Regions from separate parts of the Homo sapiens genome. Here all the other regions are linked to region 3. Evidence: fine-mapped expression QTL. A gene starts in region 3. Each other region holds a variant in brackets. All regions are shown on one strand. Distances are between the middles of the regions.

Evidence for each region. PIP is the estimated chance that this variant, and not a neighbour inherited with it, causes the effect. A credible set is the group of variants that fine-mapping cannot tell apart.
Region 1: its variant is the best candidate, but not a certain one, in a credible set for the expression of ARHGEF4 in whole blood (TOPMed, PIP 0.78).
Region 2: its variant is the best candidate, but not a certain one, in a credible set for the expression of ARHGEF4 in esophagus muscle (GTEx, PIP 0.69).

Annotation. Positions count from the first base shown.
Region 1 is chr2:130,994,688-131,000,369 of GRCh38, forward strand. The region is part of intron 4 of ARHGEF4 (Rho guanine nucleotide exchange factor 4); the gene reads left to right. Among named protein-coding and RNA genes, the nearest start is that of SMIM39, 38 kb to the right of the region's middle. The variant A/C (reference allele first, on the strand shown) is at 3,176.
Region 2 is chr2:130,811,730-130,817,411 of GRCh38, forward strand. No RefSeq gene overlaps it. Among named protein-coding and RNA genes, the nearest start is that of ARHGEF4, 22 kb to the right of the region's middle. RefSeq lists an enhancer at 2,607-3,106. The variant G/T (reference allele first, on the strand shown) is at 3,027.
Region 3 is chr2:130,833,495-130,839,176 of GRCh38, forward strand. ARHGEF4 (Rho guanine nucleotide exchange factor 4) reads left to right here and starts at 3,420. Exons shown (of 14, transcript NM_001367493.1): 1 at 3,420-3,498. The coding sequence starts at 3,460. ARHGEF4-AS1 (ARHGEF4 antisense RNA 1) reads right to left here and starts at 3,500. Exons shown (of 2, transcript NR_186036.1): 1 at 2,816-3,500.

The DNA of each region.
Region 1 (5,682 bases), 160 kb after region 3:
GGATAAAGAAACCTAGTGTTTTCCTTAAGGAGATTGATTCTTTCTGGAGTGTTTTCCTTCTGGAGATGGATTCTTTCAGTGTTTGTTTTTGTTTTCTTCTTATCTGAAAATGCCTTTTTAAATCTTAATTCCTTGCATTTTGTGTATAGAAGTGGACTCTTTATAGATGCCATTACATTGTGTTCTGATTTCCATTGCTTCTGTTGAAACATCAGCTGTTCTAACTTCTGCACTTCAGAGTCAGCCTGACTCCTCCTCGGACTCCACACAGCATTTTATCTGTGTCTGGTGTTTCAGCAGTCTTAAAGATGTGCCCAGATGTGGTTATTTGAAATTTTACTCAGCTTACAGTCCATAGGGATTCTTGGATTCATGGCTTGATGTCTGTCACTTATTTTGGAAAATTCTCAGCCATTCTTTTCAAACATTGCTTCCAGCATTCCCTCTGTCTCATCTTTTGGGACTGTAATTACATGGAAACTTCCCTGTGAATGAATGTGCAGCATCTCTCGCCTTCTCCTCTGTGCTTGCTGTCCTTTTGTCTCTGTCTGTTTTTCTCTGAATCTTTCTGTCTGACCTCTCTTCTTTATTCAGCTGTACCTAATATGTTGTTAAACATATTCATTGAGTTTGTTTCCAGTTATTGAATACTTTGACTCAAGAGCTTCCGTTTGTTTCTTTCCTGGAGTTTTTACTTCTCCATTGAGATAGTCAACCTTGCCTTCTACCTCCGTGAGCCCGCGAGTATATTAGTGCTAACGTTTGTGTTTAGCGACGCCATCATCTGGACCTCTTGTGGATCTGCAGCTATTGAAGTTACCTCCTGTTGTGCATGTTGCCTCTCCTCCACATGTGCCTGGTTATATTTTATTTGGTTATGAATAAAGTATCTGCAGAATACTTTATGACAATAATTTTTGGCTTATGATGATATTATCTTTCTCCAGAGAGGATTTATATTTGCTTCTGCCAAGGAACTCTGAGAACTAGCAATTAAGGTTACTTCGGTCCAATTTCTAATTATTTAGAGCTGAGCCACGTCCTGCAGGGGCCTCTCCATGTAGAACTCGCCCATGCTTCTAGCTTACAGCCATGCGTAGTCCCACCACAAAGTGAGATCTCCACTGTCACCCCTTGGGGCACTCTTGCATCCAGTTGCTCTCACCCCAGCCCCTTGAAGTTATTAAAAGTATTATTCACCTTTTTTTTTTTTTTTTTTGAGACAGAGTCTTGCTGTGTTCGCCCAGGCTGGAGTGCAGTGGCGCGATCTCGGCTTACTGCAACCTCCGCCTCCCAGGTTCAAGCAATTCTCCTGCCTCAGCCTCCTGAGTAGCTGGGATTACAGGCGCCCGCCACCATGCCCAGCTAATTTTTGTATTTTTAGTAGAGACGGGGTTTCACCATGTTGGTTAGGCTGGTCTCGAACCCCTGACCTCATGATCCACCTGCCTCGGCCTCCCAAAGTGCTGGGATTACAGGCATGAGCCACCACGCCCAGCCTATTCAGCCTTTCAACCATACTTCTGTTTCATCAGGAATGGGCACCCTGGCTCCCCAGGCAAGGCAGCCCTGCACACTCGGCTTACCTGCCTGTGCCCGTTCCCTCTGTGTCCTAACCTGGCTGTTCTTCGCATTTTAGTAGCCGTCTCGTGTCTTGAAGTGCATGTGTTTTATATTTTGTCTAGTTTTTCTAACTGTTCTCCACTAGTGAATTTTTTGAATTATAGACTGCCATTACCAAAAGCAGAAGTCACTTATCGTTATATTTTTAAGACCTCTGTTGCTGTGTATATTTTCAGTCCTTTGATTCTCTCTGTAGTCCATGATGTGCATCTCCCACATTTTATCAATTATTCCAGTGATAAATACCTGGATTGCCTTCAACTGTCTACTGGCACAATCAGTATCACAAAAAATCTAGTGTTGTAAATGTCCCATTGTAAACTGTGTCAGAATTTTGGTGGATGCCTATCCAGGAAGAGACTGCTGGGCCTTAGAGAATACCTGCATTTGTTTTAATTAAATGCTACCCAGTGACTTTTTCAGAGTGTGCGCACCAGTATACTCTCCACCAACAGCATGAGACGTCCTGCATCCCCCATACCACCACCAAAACCCAGAATCTTCCAACTTTGTAATTTTCTTCAAGTCTATTGGATGTAAAGTGACAAGTCATCATTTTAATTTGCATTTCTCCAATTACAATCTTTCTGTTTGGGTTTCTGTCTTTTTCTTGTTGATTTGCAAGAGCTCCTTTTATATTTTGAATATATTATTCTTTGTTGGATATAAATATTGCAAATATATTCTCACAGTCTGTCAGCTAACTGCCATCTTATCTTTTACTGCATAAAAATCGAGCAATCACTATTGCTGGTTTATGGCTTCTGCCTTGTGCTATTACTAAAGAAGTCACTGCCCTTATTTATCTTATATTATGAACTTTTAATTTTATACATTTCTATTCATGTACAAGGCTTTAGGTCAAGTGGAGCCCCCTTTTGTGTGTGTTGATGGGGATCCAGCTTCCCTTTCCCCACAAGGCTTTTATTGTTCAGCTCGTTTTGCTATTATGAATACAACCTTCTAGCAGGTTGTTATTGCTGGTGTAATTTAAAAAATACTTTAAAGCATCTATCTGAACTCTCTTACTAGTTCTCATAGTTTGATGCTTTTGTTATGTATTTTTTTTCTTGGTAGATGATTAGGTCATTTCTAAATTGTGACTTCTTTTTCTCCTATAATCCAGTGCCTTTTGTTTCTTGTGCTTCACTTACAGCATAAGCAAGATCTCTGGCTTCCTGGTAAACAGCAGCAGGCATCACGTGCATTCTTCTCTGGTTTTCTGTCTTGAAGCAAACCCATCTTAACTTTCTCCATTACATAGAGTGTGCGCCGCGGATTTTGGCAATAACCTTTGTGAAGTTAAGATAGTTTCTATGTTGAGCAGTTCTAATCCTAATTCTGCAAGGTTGAAGCTGGTAATGAGTGCATAGACTGTATTTTCTGCCTTCGTATATGGCCTGTTCTGCTTTAATGCTTGTTTTGAAAACTCAAATTTGTTCCAAAATGATTGATGTGTTAGGGAACCGTTTGAGTATAATGCAAATTTCATGTTAGCTTATGTGCAATTTCATCCACTAGAAACACCAGGTGAATGCAGAATACTGCCCCC[A/C]CTTAATGCAGAATATTGCCCCCCATGTGCCCCAAGAGTGGAGCTGCATAGGAACACACAGACGCACACCTCCCCCAGGAGCAGAGCTTCGTAGGAACACACAGACGCACACCTGGGATAGTGTCCAGCTATACATGGATTCACTCTGTGTGTCATGAGCCACACCACCACTTCTGGAGTCACAGCTTGCCTCTGACCTCAGAGACCCCTTCTTTCACCACTTCCCACTAACTCATAAGCTCTTGATGCCCACTTCTACATGCAAATCACAAGTCTTTTTCACATAGTGCCATACTTATTGTAGTATTTATATATTTCCTAACCTTTTAGCATGTGTAAAATTGTGCTATCATTGTTAACATGAATGGACTTTATTTTTTCAAGCAGTTTTAGGTTTATAGAAAAATGAAGCAGAGAGTACAGAGTGTTCCTATAAACCCCTCACCCTGTCACCAGTTATTAACATCTTGGTTAGTCTGGTGTGTTGGTTAGGGTTCACTTTGTGTGTTTATATCCTATGAGATTTGACAAATGTGTAATGACAGGTGTCTACCATCCAGTACCATACAGAGAAATTTCAGTGCCCTAATGATCCCCTGCACTCCACCTATTCTCCCCGCACCTTTGGCCACTGATAATTTTTTCCCTTCTTCGTGGTTTTGCCTCTTCTGTAATGTCATGTAGTTGAAATCCCACAGTGCACAGCGTTTTCAGATGGGCTTCTTTCACTTACCAGTATGCATTTGGGTTTCCTCTGTGTCTTTTATGGCTTCATAGCTCCATAGCTCCTTTTTCTCTCTTGCTGAATAATTTGTCGTTGTGTATATGTATCACAGTTTGTTTATCCATTCACCTACTGTAGGACATCTTGGTTGCTTTCAAGTTTGTCAGTAATGAATAAAGCTGCTATAAACATTTGTGTACACGTTTTGTGTGAACATGTTTTCGACTCGTTTGGGTAAATACCAAGGAGTGTGATTGCTGGATCATATGGTAAGACTAGATTTAGTTTCATAAGAAACTGACAAACTGTGTTCCAAAGTGGCTGCACCATTTTGCATTCCCGCAAGCCATGGATGAGAGCTCCTGTTGTTCCACATCCTCATCAGCAATTGGGGTTGTCTGTGTTTTGGATGTAACCATTCTAATAGATGTGTAGTGGTGGCTCTTTATTATTTTAACTTCCAATTCCCTAATGACATACCTGTATATCTTCTTTGGTGAGATGTTTGTTCAGACCTTTGGCTCATTTTTTAATTGAGTTGTTTTCTTATAATTGAGGGTTTTTTTGTTTTTTCTTTTTTTTTTTTTTTTGAGACGGAGTCTCGCTCTGTTGCCCTGGCTGGAGTGCAGTGGCGCGATCTTGGCTCACTGCAATTCTCCTGGGTTCACGCCCATTCTCCTGACTCAGCCTTCCAACTAGCTGGGACTACAGGCGCCCGCCACCACGCCTGGCTAATTTTTTTTGTATTTTTAGTAGAGACGGGGTTTTACCATGTTAGCCAGGATGGTCTCGATCTCCTGACCTTGTGATCCGCCCGCCTTGGCCTCCCAAAGTGCTGGGATTACAGGCATGAGCCACTGTGCCCGGCCATAATCGAGTTTTAAGAGTCGTGTATTTTTGATACCAGGTCTTTATCATACATGTTTTGTAAATCTTCTCTTTCAGTCTGTGGCTTTTCTTTTCATTCTCTTAATGTGCTAACATTTTGAATAAACTCCTATCTTTTTGTAGATGTGTTACTAACCAAGTTTTTGAGTGTTGTTTCCCTAACCCATTTTTCCTAAATCTTGCATTTTTTGTTGCATGATTTTACATGGCATGGTGCTTTTTTGTTTTGTTTTGTTTTGTTTTTTGAGATGGAGTTTTGCTCTTGTCGCCCAGGCTGGAGTGCAGTGGCACGATCTTGGCTCACTGCAACCTCTGCCTTTTGGGTTCAAGCGATTCCCCTGCCTCAGCCTCCTGAGTAGCTGGGACCACAGGTGCACACCACCACACCTACCACACCTGGCTAATGTTTGTATTTTTAGTAGAGGCAGGGTTTCACCATGTTGGCCAGGCTGGTCTTGAACTCTTGACCTCAGGTGATCCACCTGCCTCGGCCTCCCAAAATGGGATTACAGGCGTAAGCCACCACTCCCAGCCAGCATAGTGCTTTTTAAGATCATATTTATTCTGTTACAGCAGAACTACCTGTATTTAGGAATTTCCATAATAAAATGTTTTCAGTGTTTTAAATAAAAAGATAAAAAAGAAGAAAGTTCTTTTTTGCTAGAAGGTGTTTCTTGTAATGAAGGATTAAACTTTTTAAAGTGCTTTTTCAGCCTTCATTATAATGTCTTATAATTTATTTCCTCTTTTGTCTATTATTGTGGTGAACTTCACTGATCTCATGGGGACCAACCTTGTATTTCTGGATAAACCCCTATTTAAGTATGATACATTATTTTCAATGCACTGTTGTATTTGATTAGCTAATATTTTGTTCGGGATTTTGTATCTATTT
Region 2 (5,682 bases), 22 kb before region 3:
TCTTTCTCTTGCTTGATTGCCCTGGCCAGAACTTCCAATACCATGTTGAATAGGACTGGTGAGAGAGGGCAGCCTTGTCTTGTGCTGGTTTCAAGGGGAATGCTTCCAGCTTTTGCCCATTCAGTATGCTATTGGCTGTGGGTTTGCCATAAATGGCTCTCATTATTTTGAGGTATGTTCTTTCAATACCTAGTTTATTGAGAATTTTTAACATGAAGGGATGTTGAATTTTATCAAAGGCCTTTTCTGTGTCTATTGAGATAATCATGTGGGTTTTGTCTTTAGTTCTGTTTACGTGCTGAATTACATTTATTGATTTGCATATGTTGAACCAGCCTTACATCCTGGGGATGAAGCCGATTTGATCATGGTGGATAAGCTTTTTTTTGCTTGTTTGTTTTGTTTTGTTATTATACTTTAATTTCTGGGATACATGTGCACAATGTGCAGGTTTGTTACATATGTATACATGTGCCATGTTGGTTTGCTGCACCCATCAACTCATCATTTACATTAGGTATTTCTCCTAATGCTATCCGTCCCCCAGCCCCCCAGGCCCCAACAGGCCCTGGTGTGTGATGTCCCCCGCCCTGTGTCCCAGTGTTCTCATTGTTCACTTCCCACCTATGAGTGAGAACATGCGGTGTTTGGTTTTCTGTCCTTGAGATAGTTTGCTTAGAATGATGGTTTCTAGCTTCATCCAGGTCCCTGCAAAGGACCTGAACTCATCCTTTTTTATGGCTGCATAGTATTCCATGGTGTATATGTGCCACATTTTCTTAATCCAGTCTATCACTGATAAGCTTTTTTTTTTGAACGGAGTCTTATTCTGTCACCCAGGCTGGAGTGCAATGGCGCCATCTCGGCTCACTGCAAACAAATTCTGCCTGCCAGGCTCAAGTGATTCTCCTGCCTCAGCCTCCCGAGTAGCAAGTAGCAGTGATTACAGGCATGTGCCACCACTCCCAGCTAATTTTTGTATTTTTAGTAGAGACAGGTTTCACCATGTTGGCCAGGTTGGTCTCGAACTCCTGACTTCAGGTGATCCACCTGCCTCAGCCTCCCAAAGTCCTCAGATTATAGGCATGAGCCACCACACCCAGCTGGGTAAGCTTTTTGCTGTGCCGCTGGATTTGGTTTGCCAGTATTTTATTGAGGATTTTTGCATCAGTGTTCATCAGAGAGTAATTGGCCTGAAGTTTTATTTTTTTGTTGTAGCTGTACCCAGGCTTTTCTTTTCTCTCTTTCTTTTTTTTTTTTTTTTAAGGAGACAGGGTCTCACTCTGTCACCCAGGCTGGAGTGCAGTGGTGTGAGATTACAGGCCCGGTCTTTTTTTAAATTATTTTTAGTAGACACGGGGTGTTGCTATGTCACCCAGGCTGGTCTCAAATGCCTGGGCTGAAGCGATCCTCCCACTCTGGCCTCCCAAAATGCTGGGATTGCAGGCATGAGCCACTGTGTCCCACTGCTTATTTCTTGGTAAAAGGGAAGCATTGGCCGGGCACAGTGGCTCACGCCTGTAATCCCAGCACTTCAGGAGGCCGAGGCGGGCGGATCACGAGGTCAGAAGATCGAGACCATCCTGGCTAACACCATAAAACCCCATCTCTACTAAAAATACAAAAAAAAAAAATTAGCCGGGCGTTGTGGCGGGCGCCTGTAGTCCCAGCTACTCAGGAGGCTGAGGCAGGAGAATGGCATGAACCTGGGAGGCAGAGTTTGCAGTGAGCGGAGATCGCACCGCCGCACTCCAGCCTGGGTGATAGAGCGAGACCCCAGCTCAAAAAAAAAAAAAAAAAGGGAAGCATTAACTTCTCCAAGACTGGTTCCCTGAAGGCTGATCTCCCTGGAAGGCTGGACCAGAGCTCAGTCATCTGGCCATACACCATGCTAAGACCCCCGACTCTGATCACATTAGGGGAGAGCCTGGCACCCTACGTCATGACCTTAGTGGACAAGAGGACTGCACATCAGGCTCTGCCATGTTTCGCTGCACTTGTAGCATGTTTTTGATGTTATGTTTCTAGCTCAGGATCATGCCAGGGAAGAGGTTGGGGCATCTTCAATCCTGAAGCTTGAGGGCTAGAGTCGGACATCTGCTAGAGCTGTGAGTGACACCCTGAAATGCACGGGTCAGCGAGGCTCACATGACTGTTTCTGGAGGCCAGTGTCTTTCCCAGGAGCGCTGATCCGGCAGGCCCACTGTGGGTGTGGTCAGCCAAATGTCACTCAGCAAACAAGTTTGCAGATCAGTTTGTGTATCCTTCAGTGGATCACCCTTCCCTCCACTCTTTCTCCCACAGTGAGCCTGGCTGCAGTCTCACCTTTCATACCCCAAACCCTGCAGGAATCAAAGTGCCACCTTCTGCCTGGGCCTCCAGTAAGGCTGAGATGTTAGCCCAGCTCACTAGATTCCAGTCCTGCTTCTTTGCTGATCTCAGAGACATTTTCCTAACTTTTGAGGCTGGCCATGATTTTCTGATTTTGTCCTTTTAATATTTTGTGAAGCATTTCTCTGTGTTTGGCACAGAGGTGATTGCCGAGGCTGAGCTCCCTGCACTGTGCACTCCTGAGCACATCCTGCTTTGCTGGGCCTGGCCCCTGGACAGAGGGGCTGGTCCCACCTGGCCTGCGGGGCCCAGGGCAGCCCCAGTGCTCACTCCTATGTTTGGCTCACTTGTTTTTTGTTGCTCTTTGTTTCTGGCCTCTTGGACGGTGTTCCTTATGGCCTTGCGCTTCCAGGAGTGCATTTGAAAGCATGTTTGTGAATTTAATCCAGCATTTCTTTCCTTTTTTTTTTTTTTTTTTTTGACAGAGTTTCGCTCTTGTTGCCCAGGCTGGAGTGCAATGGTGTGACCTCGGCTTATAGCAACCTCGGCCTTCCGGGTTCAAGCCATTCTCCTGCCTCAGCCTCCAGAGTAACTGGGATTACAGGCATGCGCCACCATGCCTGGCTAATTTTGTATTTTTAGTAGAGACAGTTGGTCAGGCTGGTCTCAAACTCCTGACCTCAGGTGATCCGCCG[G/T]CCTTGGCCTCCCAAAGTGCTGGGATTACAGGCGTGAGCCACCGCGCCCAGCCTAATCCAGCATTTCTATGTGCTCTGTGGTGGAAAATGTTTCCAATTAAGTAGACCTGCCATATTGCTGGAATCGGAAGTCCCGGTTTTTGTTTGTAAGCCTAGAACGTGATTCTGGGAGAGAACAGCCCTGCCTGCAGCATGCCAGTCCCTGTGCCTGCTGAGTGAATGTCTGATTTGAGGACACAGGGTATATGTCACAGTGCTTGGGGCAAGAGAGCATGTGGGAGATGTTCTGGAAAGGCCTGCAGCTCGCGGTCAGGAAACCTAGGTCCAAGCACCTCCAGTCTCTGCTGACAGCTGAGTGCCCAGGTGTTGTCCCTGTGCTGTTCTGTCACCTGCAGCAGGTCCTAGGAGGTGTCCCTCCCGGTCCGTGCTTCACAGAGAAGGGAGTGAGACCAGATGTGAAGCGGGCCTTGGAGTCAACGGCCTGGTGACTTCTGGACTGGCCCTTAGGTCTCGATGTTGCAGCCTGGAGTCTTCCTCTGTCCCTGGGTGTGTTTTGAGCAGTAGAGGAGGGGGGACACGGGAGCACCTGTTGCAGAGTTGCTCTTACGGATGATCGTCATGGTATGAACAGCACAGGAACGAACAGCACTCTGGAGTCAGGAAGCGGCACTCCCTGGGGCCGGGGAGGCAGGAGGAAGCTCCGCACCTGAGTTGGGTGGTGTCCAGCGGGCTGGGGAGCCTATGCCCAGGGCCTGGTGTGTGGAGATGGGCTGAGCCTGCTGTGTGGGAGGTGGTGAGGGCTGGGGTCTGAGGCCATGGGGATGGGGGCAGTAAACCTTGGGGGAACAGAGCTCAGCAGCCAAGCATGCTTGTGAGTGACCCCAAATGTTCTGGTCAAGTTCAGTCCCCAGAATCTCAAAGAAGGTCCCTTTGCAGAGGAGGAGAAAGATTTGGGGTCCAGACACTTAGAGCTGTGTGTCCCAAGGATGGCTCTTTTCACTGGCAGACTGAGAAGGCAGGCCTGAAGTCTTGTCCAGGCCGACGTGGGCTCAGATGCTGGGGAGGCAAGCGCTTGGATCCACCTCTGTCCAGAGGAGCTTCTAGGCTGGTGTGGGGGGATCCAAGCACCCCATAGTGTCCAGCTGCCCTGGCAGAGAGCTGGCCAGGGGCAGTGGGCTCAGGGAAAGAGACAAAAGAAAGCTTAACATATTCCTAAGAATTGGAGTCATACAGGCCAGATCCTCCAATGGCAGTAGGATAAGTATGAACTCAACAATAAAACATCAGTCAAAAAACCTGTGTAGAGATTTTTAAAGATGCTAAAAATCCAAAGATAAGGAGGAAACATTTCAAAATGGAAATTTTGAAATTTTAAGAACTGAGAACAATGCAAGGATGACCTATCAAACTATGCGAAATTCAGGTAAACCTGTTCTTACAGGTAAATACAAACCCTAAATGCATTTGCTAAAAAGAGGATAAAAGGCCAGGTGTGGTGGTGCATGTCTGTAGTCCCAGCACTTTGGGAGGTCGAGGCAGCTGGATCTCTTGAGCCCAGGAGGAGTTCCTCACCAGCCTCGGCAACATGGCGAAACCCCATCTCTGAAAAAAAAAAAAAATTAGCCAGATATGGTGGCCCACACATGTAGTCTCAACTACTCAGGAGGCTGAGGTGGGAGGATCACTTGAGTCCAGGAAGTCGAGGCTGCAGTGAGCTGTGATCACACCAAAAAAAAAAAAAAAAAAAAAGATAAAAGAAATGTGTAATCAAAAACTCATGGGAGAACGAGAGAATACTATGATTAACATTAGCAGCAACAATTTTTTTTTTTTTTGAGATGGAGTCTTGCTCTGTTGCCCAGGCTGGAGTGCAGTGGTGCTATCTCAGCTCACTGCAAGCTCCGCCTCCCAGGTTCACTCCATTCTCCTGCCTCAGCCTCTCAAGTAGCTAGGACTGCAGGCGCCCGCCACCACGCCTGGCTAATTTTTTTGTGTTTTTAGTAAAGACGGGGTTTCACTGTGTTAGCCAAGATGGTCTCAATCTCCTGACCTCGTGATCCGCCCGCCTCGGCCTCCCAAAGTGCTGGGGTTACAGGTGTGAGCCACCATGCCTGGCCTAGCAGCAACAATTTTATAAAGGTAGATGACATGGATCATTGTTTAGAAATATTAAAATTACCAAAATTGAGTCAAGAAGAAAGAGAAAACAAGCTGCAAACTGCGAGTACATATTTGCAATACAAAAAACTGGCAGTGAAGTTATCCATAATATATAATGGCTATAAATTAATCAGGAAAACAAACACTCCACTAGAACATTGTGCAAAAATGAAACTAGACTGGCTAAGAAACACAGTAAACATGATTAACCCACTAGTAACCCTGCAAATGCAAATTTAACAGAATGCCACGTAGCATCTGTCTGCAGGGCAAATATTAAAAAGCATTCCATTTGAACTGAGGTCTACAGCAATTGTGGAGCAACAGGGCCTCTCATTTGCCACTCCTGGGACTGGAATTGGTCACCATCACTTAGATGAGCAATTTGGTAACAACAGTAAATTTTAAAACATACATAAACATGATTAGTAATTTCACTAATAGATCTTTTTCCAGACTAAATCTCACATAGAAGGAAATAACAAATAAGCAATGT
Region 3 (5,682 bases):
GAAGAGTTGGGGACGAGGCAGTGAAGCCTCTCTCCTGGGCATTGCCTCCTCCTGGGCCCAGCCTAGAGGGAACACCAGTGTCCCTGCGCCTTTCTGTGGCTGACCGCCAGCCACTGCCCCTCGCTGACTGTCGGAGCTGGCTATCTGCAGGCCCTGCCCGCGTGTCAGGGGTCACTTGGTCTGAACTCGGCGCTACATATTCACCCCGGAGAATGCCATCATTAGGGTCAGCCCAGCTTTCTGACCTGAGGAGCTCTTTTAAGATTCTGTTTCCGCCGGGTGTGGTGGCTCATGCCTGTAATCCCAGCACTTTGGGAGGCCGAGGCAGGCGGATCACGAGGTCAGGAGATTGAGACCATCCTGGCTAACACGGTGAAACCCCGTCTCTACTAAAAATTCAAAAAAAAAAATCAGCTGGAGGTGGTGGCGGGCGCCTGTAGTCCCAGCTACTCTGGAGGCTGAGGCAGGAGAATGGCAGGAACCTGGGAGGTGGAGCTTGCAGTGAACCAAGATCATGCCACTGCACTCCAGCCTGGGTGACAGAGGGAGACTCCGTCTCAAAAAAAAAAAAAAAAAAGATTCTGTTTCCAACGTGTCCCTGATTTCTGTCCCCCACCTATGACAGCTGTACAAGCAGGCCGGCTTCCCACCAGGCTAGCTGAAGGCTCATGCCCTCCTCACAACGGCTCCCCTGACTCACCAGCAGTCAGACAGCAACACGTGGGTGGTCCTGGACTTTACATCTTTGGAGCTGGTCAAGGACCAGGGACGCAGGGATCGTCGGCAGAGATTACAGGAGGCCAGAGTCTAGGAGCAAAGCTGCAGGGAGAGGCACCAGCCCCAGCCTCCCTAGTGGGCAGTCTGTCTGGTGAGCTCTGGCTGCTGCCGCTGCCGTAGCCGGCTGGCTGCCTGTTTCCCAGGTCAGCACACCTCCCCCTGCCTATGCCTTACTCCATATTCTTGCAAAAATCCCTTTCCTGCTAGAGTAGCCAGGGGAAGTTTCTGTCTTTTGTGACTCAGGCCCCAGCTGGTAGTGTAGGTCTGTCTATATGTAAGCCTGTGGTCTCTGGGCCAGAGAAGTAAAGCAAGTGGCCCAGGCTGCCCAGCGAGGAAAGCACAAGCCCCTGTAAGTTCCATCGGTCCACCCCGTGCCCACGCTCTCTCTGCCACTTGGAATCTGCTGCGATGTTTTCTGTCCTACCACTCACTTCACTCCCCTATGCTGCTGAACCTGTTTAATTGCCATATGTGACAGACAGGAAGTCGGGGTCATATTTAAACATGGGACGCTCCACTGACTAGAAACTCTATTGTACAAATCCTTCAGCGACTCAAACAGGCCTGCCTTTCTTATTTTTAATAACGGCAAAAGAGAGAGCACACCACAGTGCAGTCAAGTCCTCCTAAAACCATGTTCACCAGAAGGAAAAGACAGACATAAACTACCTTTGATTTATTTCCCCTCGAGCATTGGATGTCACTTCTCTAGGGAGGCTGCGCTGTGGCAGGGATCTGGGCGTGCGGGGACACAGCAGGTGCCTGATGAATGGAGCCATCATGACGGTTATGCTCCAACCTGGGGTCTGATCCTCTGCTAGACGGCGAGCCTGGCCCAGGCCCCATAGCCTGAACCAGGGGTTCTCTAAGTGTGGTCCCAGGGCCAGCAGCTTCAGGGTCACTTGGAAACATGTTAAAATGCAAATTCCCAGGCCCCACCCCAGATCCTGTGAGAGGGGGGCAGCGGTGAGGGGCAGCAGCCTAAGCTCTATGGTGTCCTCCACGTGGTTCTGACTCAGGTCTGAGAACCCAGGTCCAGGGCTGTCCACTGGTCAGAGGAGTCCAGACAACAATGGAACCTGTGGCCAGGGGTTGTGTATTTTCACTGGACCTCCCCCCTCGCCAGGGGATTAGCACTTTAAGCCTTCAGAGAAGAGCGAATTAACTTTTGCTAAGCACCTGTGAGGTTTAATTTCTCACGTACTCTCCATGGCAACCCCACCAGGCGGTCATTCCTCTCGAATGTTAAAGATACGTGTTTAGAGCAGATGATCATGATTACACAACTGGTGTGCAGCACAGCCAGGTGCCCAGATCCGAATCCCACACCCTCCTCCCACCACCATGGGCCTCAGGGACATGCTTCTAGCACAGTCATGGACCCTGAGTGACATAAAGGCTGTGACAGGGGACGCAGGATCTTCAGATGGCCCCACAGTGCCTCCTCTGAGTATCTATCTCCCAAGCTTCTCGCCTGGCCTGGTTGCTGTGAGGGCCTGGGGAGAGGCAGAGACAGGTTGGGTGTACGGAAAATGCACACTCTGCCAGGCACCCCTGACACGCACTGCTGACCAGGCATAGCGTTCAGTGGGGCTAGGACTTGGACGAGGGTGCAGGCTTGAGCAGGGGTGCAAAAAGCCAGTCTGGGCAGATGCTCTCCCTCTGTGGGGCGCCGATCTCAGAAATGGTGGACAGAGCAGGGCTGCAGTATGGTGCACATGGGCCTTGGGGTCTTAGCTTTCGTGGGCCTCTTCCTGCATAAAATAAAATAGTTAAAATTAGAGTTTACAACTGCATTCATATAAAGATGAATATACTCCAGGCTAGATTCATTATTATTTTATTATACTCAGTTTTTTTCTTCTGATTTAAAATAGTGCGGTCCTAGGGCTGGTTAGAGTGTTTCCTGGCAGGCCCTGTCTCCTTAAACCCCTGCAAAGAAAGCAGCGAGGACTTCCCTTTGCCCCTTAGCAGAAAGCTGCGCTCCTTAATGGTTACGGGTGTGACCATTCACTTACATCCTATCTGCAGGACATACCTGGAAAGGTAAGTGGGAGGCAAGAGGGAGCTGGAGGCCAAGACTTCGGTCCCAGATATCCTAGTCCACATTTGTCCCCACCAGGTGTGTGAGTGCCGGCGCGCTGCACAGCCTCCCTGGGCCTCCGTTTCCTCAACTGGTAAACAAGAACGCTGGGCGGACTGAACTCTGAAAGTTCTGGGAGCTTGACAATCAGAACTCTCAGCAGAGAGGCCGCCCCTGCTCTCAGGAGGGCGGAGGCACCTGAGTCTCCAGTGCGGAGGACAGGCCGAAGCGCTGCGTTGGAGATGTGCAAATGCGCAAGAAGCGTGCTGCTTTCTCTCTGAGAAAACACTCCTAGGCTTCAAGGGGGCCCAAGAGCTCGACTGGGCGGGATGATCCCGGCGGCCCCTGGGCCGGGTCTGTGGACGGCTCTGCTGTGTGCCTGTGCGTGCCCAGTCCCGCGGGTGACCAAAGCCCAGGGGCGGGCAGGGCAGGAGCCTGGACCTCACGTGCCTCCAGTGGCCAGGTTTGCGGGGGCGGAGCGTCCGGGCGAGGGCGCGGGGGCGGACCCTAGGGCGGGGCGCGGGGTGGCGTCGGTGGAGCCGGCTCGGCGGCGCGGCTCGTAGTGCTGCGGCCGGGCTCCGGGCGTCCCGGCGGCCACCATGCTCAGCGTCGTGCACTTCCTCCGGAGCTTCTTCAAGGTGAGAGCCGGCGTCCGGGACTTGCGGTCGGGCTCCCGGCGCCCTGCGCGGGTGGGGAGGAGCACAGCCCGCGCTGGCTGCTGCGCCCCGGGCCGTCCCCTGGGCACCCGGTGGGTGGGGACACCCTCGTGGCTCCCCGCCGCTCCCAACTTTCCGACGTGCAGACCGGAGGCGGCGTCCTGCAAAGTGGGGCCGTCTCGAGCGCGGGGAAGGACGGGGCTCCGTTGGGGGCGGTAGGGACGGCGGCCCGGGGCGAGCCCCTGAGAGGGCAAGGGCGAGCGCCTGAGCCGGCCTCCCCGCACCTGGACCGTCCTGGGCGCGCGGGGCACTCGGAGCCGCTGCCTGGACCGGCCTGGGCGCGCAGGGCACTCGGAGCCTCTGCCGCTTGGCGCAGTACCAGCTGTTTTGGGAAGGAGGGCTGGTGCCGGCCCGGTGGGTACGGGAGAAGTGGTTGCTGTTGTTATTCCCCAGGCTGAGAGTACGCGAGGGCGCAGCAGCGGCAAGGGGCTGGAACTGGGGTCGGGGCTGTTGGGCTCCTGCTCGGGGTGCCCCCTCTCTGGCCCGATTTCCGGGCCCGCTCACCATCCGGGACCCACTCAGTTGGGACGCCTCCACCTCGCTGCCCCCACAGGAACCCCAAGATGGGCCGGGGGCTCCGGGGCACTGTCAGGGGTGGCCGGCCACAGGTTGCCAAGCCCGACCTCCCCAGGTGAGCCAGCGGGAGGGCGGTTGCGACGCTGGGTGGTGCTGAGCTCCGATGGGCTCCTACTCCGGGAGCAACTGCATGAAAGGAGAGGCGGGGAAGAGCCACCAGCTGTCAGCTGCAGGTCCAGGGGGAGGCAGACCTGTGTGGGGCTGTCGGGGCGGGAGGGCGGGAGGGCGCCCTACTTGGCTGTGCAGCCATCTTCTCCCGGAGTTGAAGACGGGAGGTTGAGGTCGGAGTTCTGTGGCCCTGAGAGCTCTAGTGAAAGGGGCAGGAAGCCAGGTGACCCAGGGCAGACCTGCAGGAGCCCTGCCCTCAGCCTATCCGCTGGCCTGGCATCAGCTCCCACCCCCAGCGATAACGAAGTGATCGCTGGCATCAAGAGTGGAGAGGGCCGGACAGCCGGGAAGGCAGCCTTTCAGGAACCTGTGCTGGTGAGTGTAGGAGATGGCTTGGAAGAGCTCAGACCCCCTTCAAATGCCGACTCTGTCATTGAGGAGGTGTACAATCTTGGGACAATCACATAACCACCTGGGTCTTTGTTTTGAAAAATGTGGGTGATGTTTCCATGCCCTCCACACCTTTCAGGGTTAGTGTGAAGGTCTTATTAGAAAATGTGAGTGTGGCCCGGCGCGGTGGCTCATGCCTGTAATCTCAGCACTTTGGGAGGCCGAGTGGGGGGGGCGGATCGCCTGAGGTCACGAGTTCGAGACCAGCCTGGCCAACATGTCAAAACCCCGTCTCTACTAAAAATACAAAAATCAGCCGGGCGCGGTAGTGGGCGCCTGTAATCCCAGCTACTTGGGAGTCTGAGGCAGGAGAATTGCTTGAACCCGGGAGACAGAGGTTGCAGTGAGCCAAGATAGCACCACTGCACTCCAGCATGGGTGATAGAGCGAGACTCCGTCTCAAAAAAAAGAAAAAGAAAAGAAGGAAGGAAGGAAGGAAAGGAAGGAAGGAAGGAGGGAGGGAAGGAAGGAAAGAAACGTGAGTGTGTTTATGAAGTGGTGAGCCCTGGACCTTGGTTCTGCTGCACCCACAGCAAGGGTGGCAAGGAGTTGCCCAGGTGAGGGGAAGATGGCCGGACAGAATCCAAGATGCCTGGGCAGAATCTGAGTCACCCAGCTGGCCCCAGAAGCTCCAGGAGCAGGTGGAGTGTGGCTGGAGGAGAGACCACTGGACATCTCTGGGCAGCCACCTTGCCTGCTGCTGCCTGGGAGGCTCCTGGGATTTGGCCTTTGTGAAAGTATTCCTGACACACACGGTCCTCCAGTTCCCCATCTATTCAGAGAGGCCTTTCCATACTTTCTGCCTCAGGTCCCTGTAGGTCCTGAGACACCTGAGGCCTCCCCATGCACACCACAGGAAGCATCACCTGTGCCCCTCAGAGGGTCTCCTTTCTGCTGTCCACATGGGAGGGGCTCTGACTGCCACAGCAGTCCACTTCTGGCTGTGTGAGTGTGTCTTGCCGAGCCACCGAC